2 separate regions of the Homo sapiens genome follow, and region 1 is linked to region 2. A link means that fine-mapping ties the variant in region 2 to the expression of a gene that starts in the linked region. Tissue or cell type: sigmoid colon. Region 2 holds a variant in brackets; the other region holds the start of a gene. All regions are shown on one strand. Distances are between the middles of the regions.

The links. PIP is the estimated chance that this variant, and not a neighbour inherited with it, causes the effect.
Region 1: it holds the start of CCK, and the variant in region 2 is fine-mapped to the expression of CCK in sigmoid colon (GTEx, PIP 0.94).

The regions. Positions count from the first base shown.
Region 1 is chr3:42,262,325-42,269,492 of GRCh38, forward strand. CCK (cholecystokinin) reads right to left here and starts at 3,861. Exons shown (of 5, transcript NM_000729.6): 1 at 3,360-3,861; 2 at 2,945-3,113; 3 at 2,373-2,583; 4 at 1,093-1,308. The coding sequence starts at 1,306.
Region 2 is chr3:42,331,549-42,339,283 of GRCh38, forward strand. No RefSeq gene overlaps it. Among named protein-coding and RNA genes, the nearest start is that of CCK, 69 kb to the left of the region's middle. The variant C/G (reference allele first, on the strand shown) is at 4,085.

The DNA.
Region 1 (7,168 bases), 70 kb before region 2:
ACTCTCCTGCTTCAGCCTCCCGTGTAGCTGGGATTACAAGCATGTGCCACCATGCCCAGCTAATTTTGTATTTTTAGTAGAGATGGGGTTTCACCATGTTGGTCAGGCTGGTCTCGAACTCCTGACCTCATGTGATCCACCTGCCTCAGCCCCCCAAAGTGCTGGGATTACAGGTGTGAGCCACTGCTCCTGGCCTGCTGAATTCTTTTAATGTCCAGCTGTGTTTGTACTGTTCAGCACACTGCTCCACAGCCGGTGTTCATCATTAGTGTCACTGGGGATAAAGTTGGCAGAAAAAAGCTGCCCCAATCCAAAGCATGATTCCTATGGGTCACAAGAGATGAATGGGCCTCCCTCTGAATCACACAAAGAATTGGAAGGAGCTTAGGGGAAAGCTAGCCTCAGGTCAGAATTGCCTGCATGCCACTCGGCTAGTGAGCTGCTGAATCACCTTATTCCTGGAGAAAGACTTTGATGCTGAGAAAACTGACTTGCTCAGCTCTTGCTACAACTGTGACCATCTCTGCAACAGTAAAGTAAAAACAAATACCTCTCTTGTTGGGTAATAATTTGTAAGTCATTGCAAGGAGAACACAAAACTGCTGCTGATTCTTTCCTTCTGTTACATACTTTGGTGGAAATGGACACATTGTCACTGCTTTTTTAAACTGTTGTAGCCAGATCTCAGGCATTCTCAGCATTGACCCCTTCCTGCTAGAGGATTTCCAAGGGTTGGTATCTGGGTGGCTCCAAGGTCCTTTGCGTTTTCAGTAGAGGGTATTCACTGTATCTAGGAACCCTTTCCTAGGCTTCAATAATTATCTTTTAATGGCTTGGTAAAATGGTGTTGAACTTAATCAGCAACACTGCTAAAAATTAGTTCAAAGAAAGCTTTTCAAGAAGGTTCCCCTTACTTATAAATTAAGTCCTCCATACCCCTTCTCAGATTGCTACAAAGGACCGCCAGAAATCATGTTGCTTGTTTCCTACCGAGAGAGGTCATCCCCATCAGGCTAGCGCTAGAGAAGAGGGTCAGCATCGGGAGCCTGGGAACAAGGGCAGAAGTGAGGGATGGGGAGGCAGCATTCTTACCTTTCCGGGCCTGCTGGATGTATCTTGCCAGCAGGGCGCCCAGGTGCGCTCGGGACTCGCCATCCGTTCTCTGCGATACCCTCAGCTGCCTACGGGGCGCCTCCTCTGCCCGCTGCAGCCCGGAGCCCGCGGGATCTGCGGGAGGCACCGGCTGCGTCAGGGCGCCAGCCGCCAGTACCGCCATCAGCACGCACAGGCACACGCCGCTGTTCATGGCTGTAGCGAGCAAAGGAGGAGGGCGCGTTAACTGAAAGGCTGGGCAACAGAGCTCCTGCGGCGGGCCGGGCACCCAGAAGCGGGCTTAGGACAAACACAGGTGCTCCAGACCCGCCAGGCCGCCGCAAGCACGAGGGCTCGCCAAGCGCTGACCCCAGCCGAGTGCCATGGCGCGCGCCCCCGGGCGCACCTGGCTGGTCTTTGGGAACTCCTCACCCAGCGCCAAGGGGCAGAGACCCTGTTTTCTGCCGTGTTGAGCAGAAGGAATGTTTTTGCTTTCCTAAAGTTTGAGGAAGTGTTTGCAGAGTGCCTCTCTTCTAACCGAAAGAAGAAAAATAAAACCCCACGAGATTAAAAATAGTGTGAAAAAAATATCCTAAAGGGAAGACTCCGTGGGAGAAATGAGAACCCTGGGGAAAGCACTTTTCCAGATAGCTAACAAGCTTTCAATATGGAAATACAGTAAATGATGAAAAAGAGAAGCACAGTTTAAAATGTAGGAGCAATAAATAAAGCCGTATTTATAAAGTTTTTCTCAAAGTGTACGTGGGAAATGGCAATAAGCCACTACGCAGAACATAGGCAGGTTTTAAAATCAGAAATATGTGCCCAGCGCTCAGGCTTCGAAAGCCCCGTGCATTTTAGATCGCTAGTGGATAAAACACCCTCAAGTTTCTATCCGTAAAGCCTCGAAATTTTCTGCAGTATTTAGAAAATGAATTTAAATCTTAAAACCCTCTAATATTTTATTAGAAAAGATTGCAAAGTCCCCCGCACCGCTGTGTAACAGCTAGCAAACTCAATCTGCATGCGAATCTTAGCGAATGGGTAGTTCATCCCTTAATGATGCTGGCGTATGAAAGGCTCTAAAGCAGCTCTACCCACCCAGACCTCACTTTTAGACCCAGAGCCGTTATTTCTGACTTCAAGAAATGTCTTTCGAGCTCTCGGAGGGAAGACACAGAAAATAGAAAAGCATAATGGAAATGGGCACAAAGCTGAAGACAGCATCCTTCAAAGACACACGACACTTGGATCCCCCGCTGACGAACCGAGGGACCTACCTTTTGGATTAGGACGCAGCTGGCTTGGCGTTTCCAACCGGAGCAGCCCGGCAGCTGAGCCAAGTTCAGGGAGGACCAGCGGGCGGCTGTCTCTTAAATAGCCCCACCCGGCGGCGTCGGCCAGTCATGTATTTACCCAACGCTGACGCAGACTGGCAGTAACACGTGCTCAGAGGGCGGCCACTGGGGCGACAACCGGTTGAAGTGGCTCCTGGGAGAGAGGGGGAGGTGGTCTAGTGGGGTGGAGTTAATCCCTCCCACGCGCGGTGCCGGGTGTCCGCCCCCTCTGGGTCCGAGAAGCTTCCGCCCAACCCTTTCCAGGTGCCGCTCCCCTGCGCATTCCAGAGCAGTACTCTCCAAGGTGGGAAACCTAGGAGTTTGGAGTCTCCTCCGGGATGGAGAAGCTGCCGCTAGCTTAGTTCGCTTTGGGGACCGGAGGGGCTAGAAAGGAAACTGGGGGCGGGGGTGGGGGGTGGACACTGGGCAGGACTGAGCATCAGCAAGGCGTGATTCTGAAAGGGAGGGGGCGTCGGCCCCCTACCCCGGAGCGTCCGAGGCGCTGGTCTTCATACCTGTGTCGGCTCTTTCGAAGGAGAGAGGAGGAGTCGGGGTCTTCACTTTCTTCTCAGCCGCATTAAAAGCCCTCGCAGTTCTCCAGGTTTCCGAGGGCCAGTGTTCTGGGTCAGTGAAAGGGCTCTGGCCACAGCTGGCTCTTGGTGTCCTGGGCCTCTCTTGACGCAGCTGTAAAATGCGGATGACACCATCTGGTTTTGCTCAGAGGAATCCGGTTTGGGAAAGGGATGTGTTTTCTTCCCGGGCCAAGTTACCACCACCCGCGGCGCCCACTGTTCCCCGTTGTCGACAAGCGGCGCCAGCGAGGGTCCTGGGGAACTTGACCACCGCACCCCCGCAAGCTCGGGTAGACCACGGCATCCGCCCCTCGCACCTTTCCTGAGGGCCCACACACTCACACCCCCAGGACAGTACCTTCCAGAACTCAGCTGCGCAGCCTGGAGGTGAGGACCTCACCCCTAGTCAGTCACCCGTCCGGTGGAGGGAAGGGAGGCACCGAGGCTGCCGTGCGCCTTTCCCTGCACGCGGTTACTCTCCCGGCTCCGGAGCGGGCCGACCTGGAGCCCCTCAGTGCGCTCTGGTCGTCTACACCCTGAAACCCTTTGAGTTCGAGTCCGCTTGCTGGTGCTTGAGTTCGCCGCGTCCCTGCAAAGGCACTGCCAACCCCATTTCACAGACCGCAAACCGAGGCGCGAGGAAGAGCAGCGCCTTGCCAAGGCTCCACAACACGCCCCTCGCCCTCTCCGTGCACCGAGGCCGCCCAGCCTGGGACCTGGAGATCACCAGGCCTTGAACCTTGGGACCTCAACTCCTCTCCCTTTCTTTCCCCCACCCGTCTTAGATGCAAGGAGAAAGATTTAGAAGCGCTTATTTTAAAATCGGAATCCGTATTCCGCTCTGGAATTCCCTCTGGAATGGAGGGACTGTGGCAACGCCAGTGTGAGGGTGGAGTGGGCGAGGCGGGGTGGGGGGGTTGGGGGGGCGGCCCAGAGACGCCTCCGGTTGCTGCTCCACTTTCTAATCCTGAGAGGCAGCTGCGTTTCTGCAACCTATGGGCAACATGTTTGAAAGAGCTGAAGCTGATTAAATGCTTTCCAGTGGTTTCGCCACGAGCCTGCTAAGGTTTGTGTAGTTCAGTTGCGAAAAAGAGTCTTATTTGTGATTGTGGCAAGACATGTCTGGAAACATAAACTTGTTATCGAAATACCCCCAGAGCTTCTAATTCAGTAGGTCTGAGGAAGGGCCCAAGAATCCGAATTCCTTCCTTCCTTCCTTCCTTCCTTCCTTCCTTCCTTCCTTCCTTTCTTCCTCCTTCCCTCCTTCCCTCCCTCCCTCCCTTCCTTCCTCCCTCCCTCCCTCCCTTCCTCCCTCCTTCCCTCCCTCTCTCCCCTTCCCTCTTTCCCTCTCTCCCTTCCTTCCTTCCTTCCTTCCTTCCTTCCTTCCTTCCTTCCCTCCCTCCTTCCTTCCTTCCTTCCCCCCTCCCTCCCTCCGTCTCTCCTTCTCCCTCTTTCCCTCTTTCTCTCTCTCTTTCTTTCTTTCTTCTTTATTTCTTTCTTTCTTTCTTCATTTCCTTCCTTCCTTCCTTCCTTCCTTCCTTCCTTCCTTCCTTCCTTCCTTCCTTTCCTTGCCTTTCCTTCTTTGAGACAGAGTCTCACTCTGTCGCCCAGGCTGGAGTACAGTGGCATGATCTCGGCTCACTGCAACCTCTGCCTCCCAGGTTCAAACGATTCTCCTGCCTCAGCCTCCCCAGCGGCTGGGATTACAGGCATGTGCAGCCATGCCTGGCTAATTTTTATATTTTTAGTAGAGACAAGGGTTCACCATGTTGGCTAGGTTGGTCTCGAACTTCTGACCTCAGGTGATCTACCCACCTTGGCCTCCCAAAATGCTGGGACTACAGGCGTGAGCCACCACGCCCCACCAAGAATCTACATTTCTAACAAGTTCCCAGGCCATACTGAAAATGCTAGTCCGCCAAGCACACTTTGAGATCATTTCTATAGAAATTCCCTACCTTATACCAGTTACTCAACTCCTGGCCTTGATCCATTTAATTCATGTTTATTCAACACTTACTTTGTGCCAGGCCCCAGGGATTCAGTATGAACAAGAGCTGACAATACAATAGGGGAGCTGAAGCAAACAAGTGGACAAACACTTCTCAACAATTCTGATATTTGGGGACTATGGAGTGGAGATGGTAGGAGGTAATCTTGGAGAAATGTTTTGGTGAGGGGAGCTAGGTGGTAATATGGAAGATGCCCAAAAGGCAGAGGGACTGGAAGGGGAGGGCTGGATAGGAGGCCCTCGGGGATGGGCAAGCAGGAACAATCAAGGTAGATTTGTTTTAGAATAATAAGCCATTATGAAACCCATTAATTATTAGGAAACATAATAAACATTATGCAAGTCATAAGTGTTCATCAGAGAACATTCAGAAAACAAAAGTAGAGAAAAGAAGAAAAATTCCAGCCTCCCAGGGAACAACCTGTTGCTGCTCAGGAAACTGGTAGAGGGAACCGGACTTGGTGACTGAGACTGACCTTGAGTTTCCAGGCTGGGAGACAAGGGTGGGTGGTAGAGTATTATCCAAGACAGGGAATTCAGAAGGAAAAGCAGGCTTGGAGTGTGGCCGTGGTGGTAGTGGGCCAGTGGGGAGCGGGTAATGAGTCCAGTATGGGATTGGTTGATCGTTTGTGCATTGACAGTCTAGGAGGAGTTTGGGAGCCTTTGTCCTGAGCAGAGAGACACTGGAGGGGTGGACCCAGAGTCTGGCATGTGGGTGGTGGCTGCCAGCCTGGGAGTTATAGGGAGAGTTGAGGAAGGCAGCTAGCAATGGGTGGCAGGGTGCCTCTAGACAGACCGCTGAGGAGTGACAGCGTGAAGGAGTGGGTGGAGGAAAAAGAGCTGGTACAGAACCAGACAAGTGGGCCAAGGAGGCCAGCGTGGAAATGCCAGTGCAGAGCCAGAGGTGACAGGGACCATCAGAAGCTGAAGAAGGGCTTGTGCATGGGCCTTTCTCATTTACGATCAAGAGAGCTGCTTGCCTCTTTATTGTAAAATAAAGCAGTTGTAGCCGCTTGTCTCTCAGGAGTGGAAATTCTGAGCAGGAAATGTGTGATAGAAGAGCTGCTAGGAAAATAGAAAGACATAAGGGATCTGAACTCCTTGGCCATAGTCATGATTTTTCCTTCTTACAGGGTCAACAGGTACTAATTATTCTGACTATGGTTCCTAAGCAAGTTAGGCCTGGAGCCGACACTATTCCTGTAATCCAGATGCATATCCGCATTAAAGATAATCCATTTGTTCACTTAAAAAAATGGGCTTGATGTCTCCTGAGGCAGATGCCTTTGGTGCTCCTCACCACAGTTCCACGTTCTCCCTCTGGCTTCAGCTGCAGCCTAGCCAGGCTGGGCAGTTTTCAGCAGACAGCATTCCCACTTCAAGCTTTCAAAGCACCCCTCTTGGCTTATCTCCTTCAAAGTTCAGCCCTTGCAGAGGTTCAGCCTGTAAGTTTGGGTGTTATCTCCCCGAAAGACAATCTTCAGCCAGTGGGGAATGGGAACCCCAGTCTCTCTGTATGAACCCTTCTGGAAGCTTCTAAAGACTTCTCAACGGTCCTTTGCCTGTATCGGTGAACTTGATAACAGCTCTCTCTCTCTTTTTTTTTTCTCTCTCTCTCTCCCTCTCTCTCTTTAGACAGGGTCTTACTCCGTCACCCAGGCTGGAGTGCAGTGGTGCAAACCCGGCTTCCTGGCTTAAACAATCTTCCCACTTCAGCCTCCTGAGTAGCTGGGAACACAGGTGCACACCACCATACTCTGCTAATACTTTAATTTTTTGTAGAGACAGGGTCTCACCATGTTGCCTAGGCTTGTCTCAAATTCCTAGGCTCAAGTAATCCTCCCTTCTCAGTCTCCCAAAGTGTTGGGATTACAAGTGTGAGCCACCAAGCCCAGCTGATAACATCTCTTTAGTTGTTTTTTCCTCCTTCTTTGTCTTACTCTTCTCATTTCTTCCTCCTCTCCCAAATAAACGACATGTACTCAAGTCTGTCTAATTTTAGTATAACCCTATCAAAGACACCAACTGTCTTTCGGGCACTGTTGGGATTCAGTGGTGAGCAAGACAGACAAAATCCCTGTGCTTGTGATGCTTCCATTCTAGTGGAGGAGACAGACAATTTAAAAAATACACAGCAGGCATGGAAGGTGCACACA
Region 2 (7,735 bases):
TAAAATAAAATAAATAAGTAAAAATAAAAATAAAAGAAATTGACCACATCCAAAGCATCTCACGGCCTGCACTCTTCTCCAACTCCCAGGCTGGAAGCCAAGGGATGTTAGTGGGGTTCTGTTGGGCAGCAGGTCTTCCATGGTTTTCTCCCTACAAGTGCTTCCTTTACTTGTAGTGAGTTATGCATCAGTCAGCCCATCTCTGGATCTGATCTCATTTCACCATGAAGATATTCCTGAGTGTTTCTGGCATTGGGAAGTATTATTTCCCAGCTTTCACTTATATTTCTTTGACCATCCTAATTGAAATTTGAAAAAAGGATGAGGGGTTTTAAAGAATAGGTTTAGAAGAATGGTTCCCAAAATTTAGTATAAATTAGAATCATCTGAGAGTCTTTTTAAAATATAGAGACCTGGGTTCATCCCAAGTAATTTTTAACATAACTTTTCCCCAATTATATTAACAATGCATATTCATTGTTGAAATTTTGAATAAAAAAGTATATAGAGAAACACTGTTTTGAGAATAAAACCACAGACTTGAAAAATTTTGAAATGTGACCTTTGGGGGAGTTTCCTCCAGCCAGAAGTAGATGATAGTTTCACCTCATTTATTTTTTATATATAACACAAGATTCCTTCCCACTTTTCAGAAAGTGTTTTGAGAGCTATAGGAGGAGGTCCTTGTATTTAAACAAACAAAAAAAGAAATACATGAAAGTTAGAATATACATTTGAAAAGTATTCAAGTATACATTCTGATAGTAGGGTGAGTAAAGTTAAAAAAGGTAAAATATAAGTAAGAAAGGTGGTTTAGATATATATTAGTAATGGAATTACAGAATTTGTTTAGCATTTTTAGCTTTTAGAATATATGACATAAAACTCTTAGGAAGAAGGTACTGATTTCCCTCATCAACACACACACACACACACACACACACACACACACACACACACACAGGCTTACATAGTTTCACAATTCATTAATCAGCAAAATGTGGGGAATATTCTTCAGTATTTTTACTTTGTATAATATGTGAAACTGATTTAAATTGTATTTGATGTTTTATAGCTGCTGTTTAATGTAACAGTACACTGTGAAAATGTGCTTCTGTCAATAAATATACTAGATCATATCTATCAGTGGTTGCATCATACTTCCTTTGTATTCATCAGGATAGGCTAGGTTATGTTGCAGTAACAAGCAATCACCAAATCTCACAGTGTATTTTTCTTCAGGTTACTTGTGGGGACTCTGCTGCTCTATGTCACTGTTGACATTATTCCTTGACCCTGGCTTACAGAGCAACCATATTTAGAACATTGCTGGTCACCGCAGCAGAGTGAGCAGAGAGCTTGAAGGTCTAGCACTGTTAACCAAACACTTGGATTGGGATGAACACATATTACTTTTGCTTACAATTCATTGGATAGAATAGGTTGCATGACCTTACCCAAGTAGAAGGGGCCAGGAAATGCAGTCCTGTGATATATCCCAAAGGTGAAGAATCAACCAGAAATATTCAGTGGGCAGCATTAATGACTACTACATATACATGTGCTGTAATTTATTGAACCAGTCCCCTATATTTGTACATTTATTATATTTCTGCTTTCTCTTTTATGATAATTAGCATCCTTATAAATAAATATTGCTTGGTTTCTTCTTGGTAGCAGAATTTCTAGATCAAAGTATACATATATTTTAAGGCTTTTGTTCCATATTTAACAAATCACACTCTAGAAAGGTTTTATCTGTTTATAGCCTTACTGGATATTGGACACACTACCTCAAGTCCCAGGAATCAAACTCTAAGGTCTCCAGAAAAGCTCTGTGGGAGGAATCCTCTGTCTCATGGATGTCCCCTGTCTGCCCACATTTGTGTGTTCTGGGTCTGGGAACCTACAACACTCTGTCTGTTGTAGGTTCAAGCTTTTATGATAATATCTCTATTTTCTTTACTCTTGAAATAAAATTGGTGCATGCTGAGTCCTTGGTCCCAACGCTTTCCTCCCAGACACTGCAGAACTGCAGATGTTACTCTACTGCTTTCTGGAATGCAGTGCTCTAAAGAGGAGGTTGGAACTTTTTGTCTCTTATAATTTACTTTTTTTTTTTCAGACAGGGTCTTGCTATGTTGCTCAGGCTGGTCTTGCCTCAAGCAATCCTCCCACCTCGGCCTCCCAAAGTGCTGGGATTGCAGGTTTGAGCCACCACACCTAGCTATTATTTGCTCTTGTTGTTTGAAGATTTAGTCTTATGAATAAAGTACCTATTCATTTATCAACCATATATCAGAACTTACCCCTCAAAAGTGGCCCCCATTTATTTTGCGACAGGGGGCAGTGTTCAAAGTTTTGTCTTGTATTGTTCACAAACTGCCATGTGGCATGTGCCTTTCTCTTCCTTTCTCTTCCTATTTGTTTCCATTGCTTCCTGCAAAGCTGCCTGGAGAGGATCCTTAGTTGTCAGGGCCTATCTTTAGTGATTTTGGAACTTGCATTCTATCCTGTCACTGTCTTCTGGGAATGTACCACCCCTTCATAAACATACACACACAGAACTCAATTTTTGTTGTTTGCCTATATATATATATAACTTGCCCAATTTTGTTTTGAAGCTGACCAATCCCCAAATTTATTGGGAGTAGCATAATGAGCCAGAAATCACTTTGGCTGGGGCAGCTTGATACACACTGTAAATGCATGACAGCCCTCAGCATGTGGGCTTAATGGATAAATGAGGAGTGGAGTGAGCAAGTCTGGGGAAGCTTAGCCATAGAGGCTTGTTTCATTGCCATCCACGTACTTGTGAGCATCAGCTACAAAGGACGGCAAGTTGTTAGGAAGATCTCCATCCCCTGCCACTGGGAAAATTTTTCTTGTTTGGTAGGGAACCCAGAGAAATTCCTCTTTAGTTACAGGGGGAGGGGGCATGCCTTCAATTAACAAAACTGAGTTTGGGTAATGCTTCCTTTAAAAACTTTCTTTTAAAAAGCGTGGGTCTGTCTATGATGAACATAATAAATTTTTATTGCAGACATTTTGGAAAATTTTTTAAAGCATCAAAGAAAACAACGATCAGTCATAATTCACCATCTAAATATGACTACTCTTAGTTTTTTACAAATTCTTTTACTTTTAAAAATGAATATATGCTAGATGTCTTATAAAAGTGTGATTGTATTGATGTGAAGTTTTATATCTTGCATGTTTCATTTCACATACCTTGAGCATGTATCCTTCTAAACCTGACATTTTTATTCTGAAGTGAAAAACCCTCTCTCTGTCTTTGCAATCCCTTTTTCAGAAGTAATCACTTTAGCAATTTGACACTAAGTAACCACGTTAGCAATTTGACACGTATTCATCCAAGTATTTTCTGTGTTTATACAGATACAAAAAAAAGCTTTAAACCCACGTATCCCTTTTTGTTTGGAATTATGTTCTATGTATGGTTTACTTTTGTTCACTAAACAATGTATTTACTTAGTTATTTACTATTTTTTTTCAGCCTGAGCAACATAGTGAGACCCCAACCCTACAAAAAAATTTTAAAACTTAGTTGGCCTGGTGGAGCACACCTGTAATTTTAGCTACTTGGGAGGCTGAGGCAAGGGAATCACTTGAGCCCAGGATGTCAAGGCTGCAGTGAGCTATGATTGTGCCACTGTACTCCATCCTGTAGATTCTCTTACGTTTTTTTTATTTTTTTATTTTTGGTGACGTCTTGTTGCCAGGGACTAAGAATCCTGGATACCTTCTCAGGGCACAGCAAGGAACTCCATCTCACTTTGAAAAACAGGTACAGAGTATTTCATGAATAATTTATTTAACTATTCATCTACACTTTTAGGTTGGTTCTAATATTTATGTTTTGACTGACAATGTTCGTCTTATTTGTCTAACACTCTGCTAGCCCAGATGATGAGGAAAGTGGTAATTAATTCAGCAAATGGATTAATTACACTCTCATATTAACCACCACCTCTCTTCTGGATATGCTATTTAAAAATACTTATTGCTATTATATCTAATTAGCACTGCATTTGGGTTTTCTACTGTTACTGTTTTAAAAATT[C/G]AAGTAATTTCATGTTTATGATGAAGCTTTTAATGGATTAGATAAAATGGGAATTTACTAAGAAGTTTCTGGGACCCATCTGTGGTAGTGTGAACTAAATATTTGACCCTTGCTCCCACGCTCTGGCTTACAACTCCTAATATCCTTAGAATCTCCAAAGCGAGGTATGCTATTGAGACTGGTGGCTGGCAGCCCCTAGGTAGCTTCAGGATGGGGGCTCATCACAGTGAAGACCAAGGCACAATTAAGAGGGTTGAGACTATTCAGCCCACCCATAACCTCTTGGGAGGAGAGGAGCCAAAGGTTAATTTCACTAAAGGCCAATTAGCTAATCAAGCCCCCATAAAAGCCCAAAAGGACAGAGTTTGGAGTGCCTGTGGAAAGCACACCTCAACTCCATGGGGACAGACACTCCTGTGCTCAGGACAATTCTAGGCCTTCTCAAATGTGTCCCTTCATCTGGCTGTTTATTTGTGGCTGCTCTTCAGTCATATCACCTCTATTCCAGCTGAATTTTACAATTCAAATCCATGATTTTATATTTGTGAGCATTAAATTTTGTCTGGCTTGCTTTGGCCTGTGCTTCCTATCTATTGATCTTCATTTTGTTGAGCAACACAGTTTGCTGTTATCCACAGTTTCCATCTGCAGGCCTTGCTCACCCAGGGTATGCGAGTCATCTGTGGCTGGTACAGAGTCCATGATGTTCCAAGGAGTTACTCATTCCATCTGTACTCATTCAGTCTCCATCTTTTAGGGGTTATGCTATCCAGATGAACAAATATAGGTCCTCAGCTCAGGAACTTCCTTTCTATATAGAAGGAGGCTGGAATGAAGATAGATGGCCATCCCAGTAGAATGTGGTCTATGGCAATAGAAGAAAGTGTTCTGGGGGCACAGGAGAAACATCCAACCATTATGGGATGGCAGAAGGTCACAAAAGACTACCAAGATTCACTGCTTAGTCTTCTACCAAGTTTTTACTGCCGCCCTAATTCTCTTTGCCTCTTTTATGATAACACTCACTTTGGAGGGCCACCCTTCCCTGATTGCTGTCTAAGCCTTTGGGCAGGGGCACCCACTGTCAGCTCCAGGGAGCATTACCCAATCAGTAAATTCCAAAGCCCAAGTTGCCAGACTCAGCATGGAGCAGACATCATGGAAGGGAAGTAAAAATCAAAAGATACATCAATTTATGTGTTCTTTATTCCCTCTGTTTCCCCCTTCCCTTCACCTCATTGAAGTCAGCTTGGTGGTCATTGCTTCATGGGAGGTATGTGGCAAGTCAGAAAACAGAACTACCCTAGAAGTCTTGCTGGCTTTTTATACTTAGAAGTGAATTCCTGAGAATAATTTAGTTGAAGAAACAGGAAAGGAGAAGGATTTTCCCCAGACTAAAAATAGATTGTTCCCGCTGGACGCGGTGGCTCAAGCCTGTAATTCCAGCACTTTGGGAGGCCGAGGTGGGCGAATCATGAGGTCAGGAGTTCGAGACCAGCCTGGCCAACATGGCAAAACCCCATCTCTACTAAAAATACAAAAAAAAAAAAAAATTAGCTGGGTGTAGTGGCGGGCGCCTGTAATCCCAGCTACTTGGGAGGCTGAGGCAGGAGAATCGCTTGAACCTGGGAGGCAGAGGTTGCAGTGAGCCAAGATCATGCCACTGCACTCCAGCCTGGGTGGTAGAGTGAGACTCCGTCTCAAAAAAAAAAAAAAAAATTAGATTGTTCCAGGCTGGGAAGAAGAGAAGAGTGCTGTGGTGGCAGGATTAGAGGTGCATTACCCTGTTTTTTTGGTAGCCCTGTTAGAGCAAGATTCCAGAGAAAGACACATTTCAGAAAGACTTCCAGCACAGGAATAGTTGAGACCTGCCTAGCCTTGAAGGAGTCAGGAGGACAGGATAACAGATGTCATTGTGACTTCCCATAGGTACTGATGACTGAGGACCAAATAGCTTTCCCCTACTCCCAGTGCCTTAGAAAGACCCTAGGCTTGTGTGGGGTTCCCAAGAAAAGCTGAGGTTGTTTTTCTTGTAGCCAAGCAGGGCAATATTTGTATTTTTTGTAGAGACAGAGTTTCGCCCTGTTGCCCAGCCCTCAGGCCCAGGGCTTGAGTTGGAAATTAAGTAGAGTAGTGGACTATAAAGTAAGTTCTAGTTATTGGACTCCTTAGTTCATGAGCTGAAAGGTACACTCATCGCACACCCAAGGATATTTTAATTCCCTTCTGCCCCTATTTCATTCCACCTTCTTTCCTTTCAAATGGTTTCTAAGACAGTGTAATCAAATAATCACCTTGGAGCTCCATCTAACTCATATAGTGTCCATCCTCAAATTTGCTCTGTCCTGTACAGCAGTGTTCTTAGTAAAGCAACATTAGACAAAACTCAGCACCATGGTAGAGAGAGGCAGATCCCACTCTACCCACCCAAACACCACTGGACACACACCAATAGACAGCTTTGAGGACAGACAATCCAAACAGCATTCCAAATCCATTTTTCTGGGTATCAAAAGTCAAAAGAAAGTTATTTAAGTGACTCAAATAGAGATTAAGGCTTTATTCAACGGATACACATCAGAGAGATTAAAGACTTTGTTCAACTGATACATATCAGAGAGCATCTAGAGGACAGCTGACCCTAGATTAAAGTGGGGTTGGGATTTTATAAGACAGGGGAAAGCTGAATGCCTGAACTAGTGGTTTTGGCTTAGGTAGCATTTTTCACTTTCATCAAAACTCATAGTTGGAGGTCATTCCACTTTTGTGCCTCTTGCTTAAGTCATTGGTAAAATTCTAATACTATCAAAATAGTATTTTCTACGAAGTATTTTGGCAAGCCTCGTGGCTTAAGGAAAAAAATTCCTGGACATATTTTAAAAATAATTATACTGAGGTATCTGTGGGAGTTGTTTGCAAAGATGCCGAGGGGACCTGTGGCTCACTGGGCCTGAAGAGCTGTAAACCAATCTGACTTTACATGGATTTGTGATAGAGGTGAGGAAATGAGAGGTTTAGAGGACAGGAGGCTGCAGCCATGACGTTTAAGGCTTTGGAGTTAAGGCAGTTGCAGGTTATGCCAAGTTCTAGGTGGCCATGACTTTCTTTCTGAAGCATTAGGTTGAAGCATATGCAATAATTGACGTTGTTGGTCAAAACCAGTATAATATCAGGAATTTTATAGGGCTCAACCTAAATAAATATGGGCAAAAGTCAATATGGTTGAGTTGCTGAATTTGGTTTCAGGCCAAAGAACCTTGCTTATATATATATCCTCTGTCCCTCTAACAAAACAACTAGCTAGTTTTATCTTTTCACTTTTCTATGTTCACCTCACCTCACTGCTCATTTGCTCTTGGAAACCTGGCTGTTGTGTTGGAAAAAAGTGGATCTAGTTCTGCCTTTGCCATTGGAAAACATACTTTGAGCTTTGTCCATCTCAGATACTTCAAAAACCCTTGTATATGTCATTCAGTCTATGTGATTGAAATCTAGGAGCTATCACTCCTAAATTGAGAGACAGAAATAAAATTTTAAAACAATTTTCTTAACAAACATATTACAAATAATTAATCTTAAATGGCAGCAAAATGTATCCCTGGTGTCTGAGCCAAAGTTAATATGTACACTTTTCAGAGCCCCTGCTAAGCT